Regions from separate parts of the Homo sapiens genome. Here region 1 is linked to region 2. Evidence: fine-mapped expression QTL. A gene starts in region 2. The other region holds a variant in brackets. All regions are shown on one strand. Distances are between the middles of the regions. Region 1 overlaps SLC1A4 (solute carrier family 1 member 4). Region 2 holds the start of SLC1A4 (solute carrier family 1 member 4).

The links.
Region 1: its variant is fine-mapped to the expression of SLC1A4 in whole blood (INTERVAL, PIP 0.97).

What each region holds. Positions count from the first base shown.
Region 1 is chr2:65,012,583-65,020,582 of GRCh38, forward strand. It overlaps SLC1A4 (solute carrier family 1 member 4), which reads left to right. Exons shown (of 8, transcript NM_003038.5): 5 at 3,858-4,091; 6 at 5,489-5,683; 7 at 5,963-6,097. Among named protein-coding and RNA genes, the nearest start is that of LINC02576, 14 kb to the right of the region's middle. RefSeq lists an enhancer at 4,444-4,523. The variant T/C (reference allele first, on the strand shown) is at 3,605.
Region 2 is chr2:64,985,200-64,993,681 of GRCh38, forward strand. It overlaps SLC1A4 (solute carrier family 1 member 4), which reads left to right and starts at 4,200. Exons shown (of 8, transcript NM_003038.5): 1 at 4,200-4,971. The coding sequence starts at 4,445. RefSeq lists enhancers at 217-286, 597-666, 4,202-4,786 and silencers at 3,510-4,209, 4,420-4,599.

The DNA of each region.
Region 1 (8,000 bases), 27 kb after region 2:
ATTCCAGAGCCTGACTCTATCACTGCCAATGCCATTTCATGTGATTGTTGTTCTAGGGAGAGAACTGATATTTTCAGAAAAGAAAAGGTATTTAGATGTCAAGTTCTTTTCTTGGCTTTTGTTAAGTCTAAAATATTAATATTTTCCAAAGTTTAGACTAAAAAAAAGAAATTGGGGCAGGCGCAGTGGCTCATGCCTGTAATCCCGGCACTTTGGGAGGCCAAGGCCAGAGTATTGCTTGAGCTCAGGAGTTCAAGACCAGCCTGGGCAAAAAAGTGAGGCCCTATCTCTACAAAATATAAACAATTAAATTAAATTTAAAAGTAAAAAAACTGATTGTATTAGTCCGTTCTCACACTGCTATGAAGAAATACCTGAAACTGGGTAATTTATAATGAAGAGAGGTTTAATTGGCTCACAGTTCTACAGGCTATACAGGAAGCATGGCTGGGAAGGCCTCAGGAAACTTACAAGCATGGCAGAAGGTGAAGGGGAAGCAGGCATGTCTTCACATGGCCAGAGCAGGAGGAAGAAAGACAGGGGGAAGGTGGGGGATTACAATTCAATATGAGATTTGGGTGAGGACATAAATCCAAACCATATCACTGATACGTCCATGTTAGGACATTTGCATTTTGTTTTGTTTTGTTTGTTTTTGAGACGGAGTTTCACTCTTGTTGCCCAGGCTGCAGTGCAGTGGCACAATTTTGGCTCACCGCAACCTCCGCCTCCCAGGTTCAAGCGATTCTCCTGCCTCAGCCTCCCGAGAAGCTGGGATTACAGGCATGCGCCACCACGTCCAGCTAATTTTGTATTTTTAGTAGAGACAGGGTTTCTCCATGTTGGTCAGGCTGGTCCCAAACTCCCGACCTCAGGTGATCCGCCCACCTTGGCCTCCCAAAGTGCTAGGATTACAGGCATGAGCCATAGCGCCCGGCCGGACATTTGCTTTTAATCTGGAAACCAGTTTAGTCATTCCTTCAATTTGATGTACCAGTCACATAAGCAGGTATTCAGTAAGGCAGATCCTGCTGAATGTCTAACTGCAGCAAGAGAGCGAGAGACCTGTTGCTCAGAAATGCATATTACACAGAATTGAAGTTTAAAATGCCTTAACTAGTTAAGGGATCTCAACCAAGTATGGGAGGCATTGTCAGTATTACCGCTTTCTGCAATCTTTCTTTTACTAACTACCCACTCCAAAACCCTAGTACCTGCCTACCCTACACTATTCACAGAAATAACTTTCAGATGTATTAAACCCAGAGTCAGCCAACTTTGCAAGCCACATGCTCTCTATTGCAACTACCCAACTCTGCCACTGTAGGAGAAAAGTACCTATTCACAATTTGTAAATGAAAGAGCATGACTGTGTTCCAACAAAACTTTATTTACAAAAACTCACGCTGCTAACTCCTGGATTAAACTGACCAGGGAGAAAGGAAGAAAAGAAGGAAAGAAAGAGAGGAGTCTTCTAAAAATATTAGAAGAAAATATAGAGGCAGGGAAAGCCTTCCTAAACAAGATATAAAAAGCAAAAGCCATAAAAAGCTGCTAAACTTAACCACATCAAAATATAAAAAGTCTGCATGCAAAAGATACTTTGAACAAAGTTAAAAGTCAAGACATTCATTTCTAAAAATTGATATATATATTTGCATACTGCATATATAGAAAAAAAGAGTTCTGATTACTGAAAAAGAAAAATCACTGAACAAACCATCAGAAAATAGACAAAGTATGTGAAACCTGAATTACCAGTAAACATTTTAAGGGATGCTCAACCTCATTAGAAATAAGGGAAATGAAAATTTGGTTTTATCAGGCATTGATAATGGTGAGGGTGAGGTTTCTCAACCATGACACTATTGACATTTTGGGCTGATCAGTCTTTGTGGGAGGCTGTCTCATGACTGTAGGATGTTTAGCACCATCCTGGCCCCCACCTGCATGATGCCACTAGCACCATGCCCCAAAAGTTATGACAACCAAACTGTCTTCCAGACAAAATCATCCCTGGATAAGAACCACTGTTGCAGAGGGAAGATTATTCTCCTGGACTGCTGGTGGGAATGTGATATGGAATAACCACTTTGGAGAACAAAGTGGCAGTATCTACTGAAATTTAAAATATGCACATCCTATAACTTAGCAGTTCACTTCTTAGCATCTCTACCTAGAGAACAAAGGCATGTGGTTACCACAAAGTATGTTTGCAGTGTCGTTTGTAACGATAAACCTGGGAACAACTTAAACATCCACCAACAGGACGATGACAAAATAACCTATGGTATTTCCATTCTGAAGATAATATTTAAAGACAATGAGGTAAAGGTGGAAACAACCCAAATGTCCATCATTGGATGAATGGATAAACAAAATGAGATAGAGACATACAACAGAATATTATTCAGCCTTAGAAAGGAGTACAATTCTAGCTCATGCTCCAATGTGGATGAAGCCCGAAGACATCATAAGTGGAATAACCTAGACACAAAAGGACAAACACTGTATGATTCCACCTTTGTGTACCTAGAATAGTCAAATTCAGAGAGACAAGAAGTAGAACAGTGATTCTCAGGAACTGTGAGGAGGGGAAAGTAGGCTGTTATGTTTAATGATTTCAAAGTTTGGGATGATGGAAAAGTTCTGGATTTGGATAGTGATGATAGTTGCACAAGAATGTGAATGAACTTCATGCCACTGAACTCTACACTTAAAAATGGTTAAGATGGTAAATTTTATGTATATTTTACCACATTAAAAAATGAATGGGGTAGATTTCTATGTATTGATATGAAAAGATTTCAAAGATGTAATATAGGGTGAAAAAGAAAAAAACACATAGATTTAAATACATACCTATGTATCTAATTGCATAGGAGGTAGGAGTGTCTATTTGAGGAGGATCCTGGCTTAAGGATGGTACTTAAAGAGGATTTTGGTGTCATCTACGTTTTAATTTTTTGAAAGGAGAATGTATTCATGTATTACTATCGGGTTTTTAATTAATAATTACTGCTTAGAATATCTCTAGAAAGAAAACTCAAGAAACCAGTGACATTGTCTCCAGGGAGGGGAAATCTGGGTGCTTGGGAGAGAGATGAGAGGGAGACTTCACTCTGTTCACTCTTTTGTACCCCTTGAAATTTGAACTATGTGACATTATTACCTACGCAATTAAAATTTACAAATAAAGTCAGCAGTTAGAAAATTCTTCCTGAATTTATATTAATTCAAAACAACTGACTTTTGTTCTTTGTAGCTCCCACAGTCCATTCCTTCCCATCCTGCCTTTAAAAAACTCTCACGCTCCAGGCGTGTTCCCAGAGTGTCATTGTTAATGACTTTTTCCCACGGAATCATGTTGTCTAAGCCACAAAGAATTTAAAACTTCACAAAAGTCCTAGCTTTGGCTCAATTTTCTATCACAGCCACTCTGTGAAATAGGTGTTAGTCTTTTGTGTTTCTAAGTTCTCAGAACAAGCCTGAGCAAAGCCAAAAGTCAGGCTTACAGTCCTGGAGGCTTTGATCTCGATTTCCTTGCCTTTCCTCCTGGGAATCCCTGTGACTGGTAGCATCCTTCTGTTAAGGACATACTGTA[T/C]CCAAGGGGAAAGACGTCTGGGTTCTGGTCCTGACTCTGTTACCCTTGGTGAGTGGTCAGCCTCATTTTACCCAGTCTCACAGGCTGTAAAATGGGGATGGTATAACCCTGACTGTTTCGGTTCCTCGGGGTTATCCTAGGGAGAGATGAAGACGGCCTGGCTGAAAGTCCCTGCATTCTGCCTCAGGAAGGACCTGCATCTCTCACCCCAGCTTTATCCCCCACTGATGAGTACCCTGTGCTTGTGCCCTAGGTACGTACCTGTGGGCATCATGTTCCTTGTTGGAAGCAAGATCGTGGAAATGAAAGACATCATCGTGCTGGTGACCAGCCTGGGGAAATACATCTTCGCATCTATATTGGGCCATGTTATTCATGGAGGAATTGTTCTGCCACTTATTTATTTTGTTTTCACACGAAAAAACCCATTCAGATTCCTCCTGGGCCTCCTCGCCCCATTTGCGACAGCATTTGCTACCTGCTCCAGGTGAGTGGGTTTTGGGTCTCTTCACTGCTCTGAGCCATGTTAACATGGAACCAGGTGAGCCCAGTGGTAGATGCACAACCAGTGTCTTGACATACTTTAATTCCTGGAAAACTCTAAATCGGTCTTCTGTTATTTTTTTGTTTTTTCTTCTTTAAGAGACAGGATCTTCCCGTGATTGCCCAGGCTGGTCTCGAACTCCTGGGCTCAAGTGATCCTCCCACCTCGGCCTTCCGAATAGCTGTGATTACAGGCATGCACAGCCACACCAAGCCTCACATGATTTCTTAAAATGACCAGCCCCAAAGCTTTTCTGTATTCCCCTGGGGTGGGTTTCTGTTTCATTTACTATTCTACTGAAGTTACCTCATTCTCTTCTCCCTCTTGCTCCTTAGAGGTCAGCAGATCATTAGTTAGCCCAGCTGCGGGTCCCTCACCCTAATTAGGAAGACCTTTCCCTGAGTAAAAGAAGGCAGCCCACCTAACTCAAAAATGCATTGCAGGGAAGTTTCTAGAATGGTTCCTGCCCAATTCTCCCTTTCTGGATATGTGAATTAGAAAACGAGTCTGAGGCACCGTGGTGAGGGATGGATGCTTAGCCCTCTAGGAGTCCACAATAGTGTGGGATTGTCTCATTTGGCACAAGAGATGCATCCTGTCATTCACTGGAAAACCTTAAAAAAAAAAAAAAACACTGGGTTTTCCAAATATGTTAAAACTTTCAAAGGACGGCAGCACGTCGTTTCATTCACACATTTAGTTTTGCCTCTACTGCTCACTTCCTCCCAATCTGGATGGCTATTTATATAACACAGAGGTGGGAGTAAAAAAAAAAAAAAAATTAGGGAAGGAAGTTCCTCTGGCCTAGACAAAAACCTGTTTCTCAGCTGCACCAACTAACCTCTGCAGAGCCCGCAGAGCCAGCTAGAGGGAGCAGGTACTGTTCTTATGGTTATCTACTTAGTTATTCTTCCAAGCTCACAGAGCCATTTCTGGGTTTTGGCCTAAAAGAAAAAAAAATCATAGTTTACCATTTACTTTTGGGAGGGGAACACTCAAGAGAGGAGATGCACATGTAGAGAAACTAGTTGTTTGTTCTCTCGGGAACGTTTTGCACCGGGAGGCAATGTGCAGTTCTTAAGAAACTTGGAACACGTGAATCCAAGTAAATGACAGAATAGGTAAATGAAGGCAGTCATATTTTAAGTATCTTGGGAGTTGCCAAAGCCTCATGTTGTGACAGAAGTTTTAAAGTGATTCTGTTTTTTCCCTTATTTCAAGAGAAGAAAGCCAGAAACGAAGATGGTGCTAATTGCTCTGTTCTGGGGTCTGAGACAAGACACATGTTAGCCTGCCTCGGACTGTTGTCATGTCTGGCGGTTTGTTTTTCCCATTTCTAGCTCAGCGACCCTTCCCTCTATGATGAAGTGCATTGAAGAGAACAATGGTGTGGACAAGAGGATCAGCAGGTTTATTCTCCCCATCGGGGCCACCGTGAACATGGACGGAGCAGCCATCTTCCAGTGTGTGGCCGCGGTGTTCATTGCGCAACTCAACAACGTAGAGCTCAACGCAGGACAGATTTTCACCATTCTGTAAGTTCCTCATTCTTTCCCTGGCTCAAAACTGAAGGCTTTTCTTGTGATTTCCTTTGAAAAACCAATCTCACCACAACTTGGTGTCTCGCTCATAAAATGAGGACAGTGGGGATTCATTACTTGAAGAGCGTGTGTTGACTCTCAAGGGCGTAGCCAGCAGAGCCTATGGTGGGGCGGTTTTTAGTTTCCAGCCACATTGCAGCTGCATGGTCTGCATTTCTCTGTGTCCACTCCACGCTCTATGTTAATGGCTGGCCCTGCTCTGCCATCCCTTAGAGTGACTGCCACAGCGTCCAGTGTTGGAGCAGCAGGCGTGCCAGCTGGAGGGGTCCTCACCATTGCCATTATCCTGGAGGCCATTGGGCTGCCTACTCATGACCTGCCTCTGATCCTGGCTGTGGACTGGATTGTGTAAGTAACAAGTCCTGAGAACACCAAAAAGAGTCTGCACTGAGTTCCCTAGGAGCTTAGCACTGCTGGGCCTGGGCCATGCAGAGAAACTTCAGACACACTCCAGCCTTGTGAAGGAGGCTACAGTGGAGCTAAAAGGGCAAGATTTAGAGCTAGGAAAAATTAAACAATATGAGAGTCACATGCCCCCAAACATCCAGGAATGACCATGAGATGTCATTACCAAGAACTTGCTTATAGCATCCAGTAAAGCAGGGGTCCACAGCTGAGGCCCTCAGCGCAGGCCCAAGGGACACGAGGGTCTATGGAGTTGCTGACTGCATAGGAGTAATAAGTCGATGGAGCAGTGATCCTTTGGGAATGATTGTCCCTGGCCTGGAAGATTCTAAGGAGTGATTTCTGTGAGGGGAGGGAGGATGAACCATGCTGATGTGAGTGACTTGGGCTTGGGCTCAGCAGAGGAGGAGGTAGGGAAGAAGGTGTGATCCAGACCACATCTCTGGGGCTGCTGTGAAGACACAAAACAGTTTCTGTGCATGGATTCCTTGAGTCACATGATACCTTTTGCAGGCATGAATAATATCTATTTTATAGGGAAGGCTGCCTGAGGTACTAAAGTTGAGACAGTAGAGCCTGTGGGTAAGAAAATGAGCCCTGGAGCCCAGGTGCCTGGATTGAAATCCCAGATTTGCCATCTAGTAGTTGTGTAATGTGCACTGTGTGTGCTTTGGTCTGCTCATCTGTAAAATGGGAATGATCATAGCACCCACACCAGGGTTGTGGGGAAGATTGAGCGAGTTAGCACGGGAACAGCACACAGAATAATGAGCACGTGGTAAAACATTCAATTCATGTCAGCAAAGAAAGACACTCCAGACCAGGTTCGTCACAGGCAGGGCCTGGCACTGGGCTCACGGACTGGCCTGCTGCAGGTGGGAATGGTGGTTTTTCCAACTTGAAGGGGCTTCTCAGAGCAATGAGGGTAAAATCTGCAAAAGAGACCTGCATTGCGCAGACACCTCATCAGAGGGAACTCCGTCCCTGAGCTGGCCAGCTGGACAGGACCAGAGCTGACAGAGGCCCCCTCTCCTTCCTCACCCAGCCACCTCCTGTGCGTGGAGAAGAGGCATCAAAGAGGTGCTTGGCCAGGAACAGGGAAACAGGGCACCAAGCCGGCTGCCCAGTGGAGACCTGAAGTCACACAGGCCTGCCAGCCACCCCATCCCCTCTGATTCTGCAGACAGCAGGACGGCACTCTGCAGGGAGTCAGCTCCCCAGTGCCCTCAGGGAAGATCACATTTTTCCCTCTCTTCAAAATGTGCACAATACTTCCTCTGAGCTCCAGGGACAGGGGAATGGTATTGGCTAATCTATAACACAACAAGCTAGCTTCTGGAAAGGATAGTGATATTTTCTTTGAGATGGTATTTATATTTGCCGATGGCAATGGAACACATATGAAGATTAACATCCGCAGTAAAGTAGCGTTGAAATGAGAAAAAGAAGGGAAACTCCCACAGTGTATTATTCAGTGGAAGAAAAGCTAGACACAAAACCGTATCCACACTATTATCCCAATATGTTTGTTTATTTGTTTACTTATTAGAGTCAGGGTCTTACTCTGTGGTCCAGGCTAGAGTGCAATGGCATCATCATAGCTCACTGAAGCTTTGAACTCCTGGACTCAAGCAATCCCCCCACCTCAGCCTCCTGAGTAGCTAGGATTACAGGCACACTCTACCATGCCCAGCTAATTTGTTTATTTTTTGTAGAGATAGGATCTCACTATGTTGCCCAGGCTGGTCTCAAACTCCTGGCCTTAAACAGTCCTCCCACCTCAGCCTCCCAAATTGCTGGGATTACAGACATGAGCCACTGTGCCTGGCTTATGTGTGATTTTTAA
Region 2 (8,482 bases):
ACTCAATAGATGCAATGTGGGAAAGAAACGAGGATCCTAATAGATAGCCAGAACCTAGGCCTCAGGCAAAGGACCCCAAGTGAGCTGTCCTAGCCATCTCTAGCCATTAAGCCACCCCAGCTTGGGGTTTCAGTCATTGTGAAACAGAAATGAGACCTCCTGTTATGCCCTGTCTGAATTTCTGGCCTATAAAATCATGAGCATAAAAAAATTGGTGGTTGTTTTATGCCACTCCTTTTTGAGATGGTTGTTGTTTTATGCCAGCGTGGTTTAGGCTGGTTTGTTATGCAGCAACAGATAACTGGAACAGATGCTGAAGTGAGCATTTGTATTACTCAGTTATTGCTACAATAACGCAGTATAACACATGACTCCGGAACTCAGTGGGTTTCAATAAGCATTTATTTTTCTCACGCATGGGTCTGTGGGTTGACTGGGGTGTTCTTCTTTAGGCTGTGAGGCAGCTGGGTTTGATCAGGGCTGCAGGCTAAATTCAGGCACACTCCTGTCTTTGTTCTGGTGCCAGGCTGAAAGGGCAGCATCTACCCAAGGCATGCTGGGTCACACGTATGCAGGAGTCCACATGCGATTGTGTGAAAACATTTTGATGCCTCCGCTTGCATCACATCCACTTAGTCCACTAGCCAAGGAGCTAAATGGCAAAGCTCAAAGGCAATGGGGAAGGTAAACTCCTATCTAAGTGGAAGAAACAAGGGAATAAATTTTGGCTGAACAATACTTTAGCCTATCACGGGATCAGATGACAGTAGCGGTAATGCTGTCAGGCTGGATCACTTGTAAGGCGTTGCTATAATTCAGTACTTACGCATCCAGAAATCAGGGAAAACACATATAAGTACTGTGGGGGAAGGTGTCTAACACAGGAATCAACTTTTTTTTTGCACAAAATACCTACAAACAGGAGGCATGTAAAATTATCAAAAGACCAAAAAATGCAAAAGGAGAGGAAGAAAGAGGGAAAAAGGTGGCAGAAAGTGAACCCTTTCATAGAGAGATATAGTAATACCACCAAATGTCACGGAGGCCAGAAGAGGACACCTATTTCTTGGTTTGCCTCACAAGTAGGCAGAATGGCTACAGGGCAGCCCTCTGGAGATAAAAGGCCCCAAGAGACCCTTTCGCTAATTCAATGACAGATATATGTGGCATAGTATAAGGCACCCCCAAACAGTGCTCTCACACTCAGCACCACACGATGTCTAGTAGTTCAGGGAGTTCCCCACTCCCAATTGAGGGTTGACTGACTGTTATTGCAGCTTTGGAGTGCACAGGTACAGCATAAAAAGCTGCAAGCAGCAAGCAGAGTTGGTGCAAAGAGGATTCAGAAAGGCTATGGGAGGAATGTGGTATCTGAACTGGGACTGGATGGAGAGGCAAAACAATGTGGAAGGAGCACACAGCGCCATTTTTGCAGGAGGCATAGAGGGCACATGGCTAGAGAGCAGGCTGAGGCCAGATCATGGTAGGTCTCGAATGCCAGGATGAGGAACACATTCTTAATTCACTGGGAGCCACTGAAAGCTTTTGAACAAGAAGTGATATGAAGGAGTTGTCCTCCAATATCATTTTTCTGTGTTTCCTTAGTAACAGAAACTCCAATTTTTTAACTGGGTGGATGCCTGTGTAAAACAAAAATTACATTCCCTAACGTTTCTTGCAGAAAAGAATGGTCATTTGACTAAATTCTTATCGATGAAATATAAGAGAAATAATGTGTATGACTTTTAGGAAGTGTTTTTAAAGAGAGATGCCATGCCCTCATTGCTCTTTCTTTTCTGCTGGGTGAAAGCTGAACTTTATCCTAACATGTATATTACTCATTAGGAAGATTAGCCTGGGGCAAGGCAAAATACAGGATGGTTGGAACAAGAGGAGCATTGGAGGTGGGAAGACTAATTGGGAGAACATTTCAATAGCCCAGATAAGAAGTGAGGAAATAAGAACTGAGCCAGTGTGGTAGCAGTGGGAATAGATGGGATGGGCAGATGTGATAAATATTGTGAAAGGAATCTCTGTGGGACTTGGCAATTCATTAGATGAGAGAAGGCACCACAGAGGGAAGAATCAAAGTTCGCTTTGAAGTTTCACACAGAGGTGACTGGGTCATCAATTATGTTTTAACCGAAGGGATGAGCAGGTTTGAGGAAGGCAACCATGAGTTTGGTTTTGAACATTTTAGTTGGGACGCCTGCAGGATATTCAGGTGAAGATGTAAAACAGGCAGCCGAAGACTCATTTCTGGAGCATGATTTGAGAGTCTTTTGCATAAACGTGGTAGTCAAAACAAAGGGAAGGGCTGATTGGCAAAACACAGTGTGTGTCTGTAGGAATTACTCTTTCTTCAGTGCACATAGAGAAATGAACTGCATTCTGGAAAGCCAGATATAAATATGTGCAGCTCTTCATCTGACACTACCTCCCCCGCCCACCCCCCCCCCCCCCACACACAATCCTTACAAGTTCTAGCCAATAGCTGGCTGGCTCCAAGCAATAAAATACTCACTGTCTCAAAATTTGGACAGCTCCTTAAAGTTCCTTATGAAGGCATTTTGATTTGCACAAATATGTCATGACATGTTTTAAGATGACTCCTTTATAGCAAGAAATCTATAGTAAATTGCCTTCCTCCTTAATTGAGGTTAGCCACAATTAAGTCTTCCCTTGCCTGGCACAGTGGGTGGTGCCAGCTACCAAGGAGGATCCCATAAGCCCAGGAACTGGGAGACCAGCCTGGGCAACATAGCGAGACCTTGTCCCAGAAAGAGAGGAAAGAAAGGAAAGAAAGGGAAAGAAGGAAAGAAGGAAGGAAGGGAGGGAGGGAGGGAGGGGGGGAGGAAGGAAGGAAGGAAGGAAGGAAGGAAGGAAGGAAGGAAGGAAGGAAAAAGAAAAAACAAAAGACCACCCACGGAAGTCTTTAAAGAACAATTCACAAGCAGAATAAAAAAATATAAAAATATAATAACTGTGATACAGTAAAAAGACTCAGCAGAAGTTTCCCTTGTAACTCGCGTGGCCAAAGCAGATATCAAATAAAAGATGAAATAAACAGGAAATCCATAGAACGTGAACAATAAGGAACCGTTCAGGATGGCCAAACCGCCGTCTGCGCTGTTTTCTCGCCAGGGCTCAGGCCTGGGAACGGAAGAGGTTAAAATCCAGTGGCTTGTGTTTCAGCTTTGGTTACGTGGCAGAAACCAACTGGAAGTGGTGGCGTGAGAGCTCTGTTTCTTCTAGAAGAGCTTTGCGTCTTAAACGCCCATACCGCAGACAGCTGCCTGGCGGGCGACCCAGCCCCATCCTGATGGCCCCAGGACACAAGCCCAGGAGCGCCCCGGTGCGCGCGGTTCCGCGGCCCAGGGGCGCCGGGTTTGGTGGCACAGCGAGCCCCCTTTCTCTAGCGGTATGGCTGCGTTAGAGCCCTAATGAGCGCGTGCGAAGGCTCCCCTTATTCATCCATCCTCCGGTCCGTCCTTTGTCTCAAGGCCGGGGCCTTGCTGGGCACCATGGCGTGCTTTACCGCACAAGCCCCTGAGGACCCCTGGAAGAAGGGATCTTCCGCAGGAGGGGACGCGACGGCAGGACCGCCCCGGGCCCCCTCACCGCGCCCGGCCCCCTGGCGGGAGAGGCCGGCGAGCTCTGGAGAGGAGCGCGGGCCGCGCGGGGCGAAAGCGCCACCCGGGAGAGAGGGATCCTCCCCTCTCCTCCTCTCTTCTCCCCTCCCCTCCCTCCCCTCCCACAGTCCTCAGGAGGAGGAACGCCGCTGCGTTCTAAGTTCTCCCGGGCCCTCTGGCCCCGAGGACTCAGATCCCGGCCGCGGGAGAGGGCCCGGCAGGTGCCAAGGAGCCCGGGCGGTCCTTCAGCCCGCACTTCCCCGCGGTCGCCCGGAGCCGGCCTCCGTTAGCCGGGCGGGTAGGCGGCTATTGGCGCCAGGATTGGCCGGCGCCGCCCGCGCCCCCGCGGCCTCGGGTGGAGCCTCCCGCCCGGCCGCCCCCTGCGGCACCCGCGACACGGGTGGGGACCAGAGGCTCCCGGCGGCGGCTCCCGGCGGCGGCTCCCGGGCTGTGATTGGCCAGCGCCACAGGGGGCGGGACGGCGGGCGTGAAGTGAGCGGGCTGGGGCCGCTGGCGCGCCCTCCTACTTCCCCGTCTGCGTCCGCGTTCGCGGCTCCCGTTTGCATCATCTCCAGCCGGCGGCTGCTCCAGGGAGGCTGGGCGCGATCCTCTCCGCCCGCGGCTCCAACCCGCACTCTGCGCCTCTCCTCGCCTTTCTCGCACCTGCTCCTGCGCCAGGCCCGGAGACCCCCGGGGCGGCTTCCCAGAACCTGCGGAGCACAACTGGCCGACCGACCCATTCATTGGGAACCCCGTCTTTTGCCAGAGCCCACGTCCCCTGCCACCTCTAGCTCGGAGCGGCGTGTAGCGCCATGGAGAAGAGCAACGAGACCAACGGCTACCTTGACAGCGCTCAGGCGGGGCCTGCGGCCGGGCCCGGAGCTCCGGGGACCGCGGCGGGACGCGCACGGCGTTGCGCGGGCTTCCTGCGGCGCCAAGCGCTGGTGCTGCTCACCGTGTCCGGGGTGCTGGCGGGCGCGGGCCTGGGCGCGGCGTTGCGCGGGCTCAGCCTGAGCCGCACGCAGGTCACCTACCTGGCCTTCCCCGGCGAGATGCTGCTCCGCATGCTGCGCATGATCATCCTGCCGCTGGTGGTCTGCAGCCTGGTGTCGGGCGCCGCCTCGCTCGATGCCAGCTGCCTCGGGCGTCTGGGCGGCATCGCTGTCGCCTACTTTGGCCTCACCACACTGAGTGCCTCGGCGCTCGCCGTGGCCTTGGCGTTCATCATCAAGCCAGGATCCGGTGCGCAGACCCTTCAGTCCAGCGACCTGGGGCTGGAGGACTCGGGGCCTCCTCCTGTCCCCAAAGAGACGGTGGACTCTTTCCTCGACCTGGCCAGGTAACACTCTCCACCTCTCCCAGGGCCCAGTGGGAGACGCCAGTTCTCGGATGCCCTCCAGTTCATACACCCATATGCTTATACACTCCTAAGAGTTAATTCTTAGCTGGCTGCTGGTGGCGTTTAACGTTTTAAAAATATCAAAATGACGTCTGGAGTTTTTGCGTGCTGACCACACCTTTGCAAACAGCTGGGGCGCACCGCACAATCGAAAGAGCAGGGCCGCATCTTTGAGCAAGAACCAGTCCCCACCGTTAGGTGGGCGTTTGTTAGGGAAGAGCCAGCCGCCCCGCCTGTTCTTTACTCCTTATACTCTCGCGCTGCTCTCCCCGGTAAAAATGTTCCGACCACGCCCCAGTGGCTTCGCCTCATTTTCTCCCACATGGTGCCTAAAAGCTTCTGGGAGCATTGGTTAAGTTTTGCCTCTTGGGTCATCCGGCTTGCAATCTATGGCCTTCTCTGTTACAGTCCTTGGCTGCGAAGGAAGCTGGCAATTTTCTGCAGTTATCAGTGGACCCACGGATAATAGGGCTGGGGTTAGTTGAGTGAGACATATTGCCCAGAAATATGCCTCTCCTGAGGGCTTGGGGCTTGGGACAGGTTGCTGTCCACCCCAGTAAAGACCACGGCAGAGTGCTGTGTTTCAAAGGCCTTTCTTTGTGCGAAAGTGTGAGTTCTAGAGGGGAGGGAGAGAAGCATCTTCACTTAGTTTTGCCTGCTTTTTGCAATTCTTAGAAGTTGCATTTCATCCTTTGAGATGATGTAGTATCCTTTCTGTGACTTATCCAAAACCTTGGTCTCTCCTGGTTTCTCCATTAGCCCAAAGTTCACAAATGGGGAAACTGCAGCCCGGAGGCATTTACTGATCTAACCAGGTTCAGTTGAGTGAGGAGTCCAGCTGGCTCCTTCTCCAGATTTCTGATGATTTTGGATTCTGAGCCTTGGAGTTATTAATATATTTTGTCTTGAGTTATTGAGGCAAAGCTCCTCATTGCTGAGGTTGTGAAAAACAGCAAACCCTGGGCAAAGTGACTTGCCTTTCCAACTGTTTCCATTTCTCCTTCTGGAAAATGTGATGGCTGTCTGCACTTAAGAGAGAGATTGTTCACTTAAAACAACAAAAATCTAGGACATCCGTATTTAAAAACAAACAAACAACAACAAAAAAAAACCACTCATGAGGGAGACCAAAAGTTCTTGCCAAAAGGGCAGATAGTGGTGGCCTATTAGGACTTTTAAGGGGATCACAGCTTTTTTTTTTTTTTTTTTTTTTTAAAGTCTGGGTCTTGCTCTTTTGCCCAGACTGGAGTGCAGTGTTGGGATCCTAGCTCACTGCATCCCCGAACTCCTAGGCTTCAGCGATCCTCCTGCCTCAGTCTCCAGAGTAGCTGAGATTACAGGTGCACACCACCACACCCAGCTTTTTGTTTGTTTGTTTGTTTGTTTTTTGAGACGGAGTCTCGCTCTGTCACCCAGGCTGGAGTGCAGTGTGCGATCTCGGCTCACTGCAAGCTCCGCCTCCTGGGTTCACGCCATTCTCCTGCCTCAGCCTCCCGAGTAGCTGGGATTACAGGCGCGTGCCACCACGCCCGGCTAATTTTTTGTATTTTTTAGTAGAGACGGGGTTTCACCATGTTAGCCAGGATGGTCTTGATCTCCTGACCTCGTGAGCCACCCGCCTCGGCCTCCCAAAGTGCTGGGATTACAGGTGTGAGCCACCCTGCCTGGCCCCAGCTAACTGTTTTAAATTTTTTTAGAGATGGGGTTTCACTATGCTGCCCAGGCTGGTCTAGATCACAGCCTTTGTTCTGTGACTGGCAGCTTGATATTTGGAGTCCAGACACTTTTTAAGTTTGGAAACTAACTTTTAGGTGAGTGCTGAAAAGAAGTCTCCTGAGGTTGAGAGCACCTTTAGCCTATTACCTGTAGGAGGTCGGTCAGCTCTCTCAGGGAGGAAAGGCAATAATGGGGTTAAAGGATTATTCTTTGCAGGGATCTGTGGCCCAGGGAGGGAGAATGGATGTTCAGCTCTGTCCTGCTATGGTCCCGCACCGGGAGCCTCAATAGGATCTTTTAACTCCAGAAGAGGGGGCAGTGGTGGTAGGGGGTACCTCATTACCTCCTGAAGGGACTTCTTGTTTCCTGATCATGGTTTTCTAGTTTTAGACCCAAGCCCCTTCACCTCCTGCTTCTGACATGGATGGTGACCCAGCGTCATAGCTTAGTAGTGTGGGTGCAACTTTTCAATGACTTGGGCTGCACCTGCATGGAGGGCTAAGAGAGGCTTTGTTGTGGCTTGCTGGGGATAGGTATTGCTTCATAATTCTTCCAACAGCCAACTTCATCTAATCCAGCAGCTCACGGATAAAGGTAGGGCAGGTGGTATATCCCATTTTATGACTGACAAAACTGAGACAGAGATTAAGCGATTTGCTCAAGGTCATGGAGTGGCTTATAAAGAAGAGATTAGAAGGACTGTGGGTCTCCTACCCCACAGTGCAGGGTTCTCTCTCTTTCTCCTAATCCCTCTTCCTCCAAGTCAACATGCCTTAGTAATGTCACCTGCCTAGTCTAGTGTGGCTATCTCAGAAATGCTTTCTCTGGGCCCAGAGAGGAACCAGGTAGGCATATGACTGGGTAAAGACAAATGCTCCTTTCCTCCAGCCAGCGTGGAGGCTGAGCTCCTCAAGTGAAGGAAAGTATGTGTGCACCGCTGAGGTTTGGTCTCAGGCTGAAGCAGCTTGTGAAAGGAAACTAAGTCCCAAGCCACCCGGAAATGCTTCCTGAGTCTGGAGAGTCTCTGACATCAAAATTAAAAAATTGCTTCCTTCAAGGAAACTTCACGGATGTGGATTTCATGTGACTCTGGGCATCTTCTTTGGAAAGGCAGTGCCCCATTCCTTTCTTCCTAGGGGCACGTGAATGAAATGAGACTCTGCCAGTAAACGCCTCAGTTATCCAGCAGGCCCTCTCGAGGTAGCTGCTCAGAACTTAAACACCTGGAAGAGTGGGAAAGGCCTCTGATGAGTCAGCATAGCTGCTGCTGAGGCTTTGTGCTAAAGTCCATGCCCTTTCCTGATGGTAAAGTGCCCCCAAATCCCCCAGGGTCTCTCTGTCATGATTTCTAATTTGGTTTTTAAAGCTGGAACTACAAGTCAGAAAGAGATGAAGCTAGTAGGTATTCATTACATGTGTATATGTTTTTTTAAAATTCAGAATGTCATTGCTGAGTGGTTTGATTTCCCAGCACACAATGGGTTAGAAATAACAATGTAGAATAGAGAATTGGGATGAGAAGGCTGGAGCTAGAAGCAATGAGAAGGGATGGCCAATAGTAGCTGGCAGGTGGAAGAATCATAGTCTCTTCCTGAGCAGCCCGGAGTTCTGTGCCTGGGAATCCAGAACAGTATAGGACTTTCAGAACCATGTGTGACCTAAGTGGTTGACTTGTGGGTTTTTATCCAAAATGAAATGGTTGGGCACCAAAGAGACAGAAACAGGTTATCAGGAA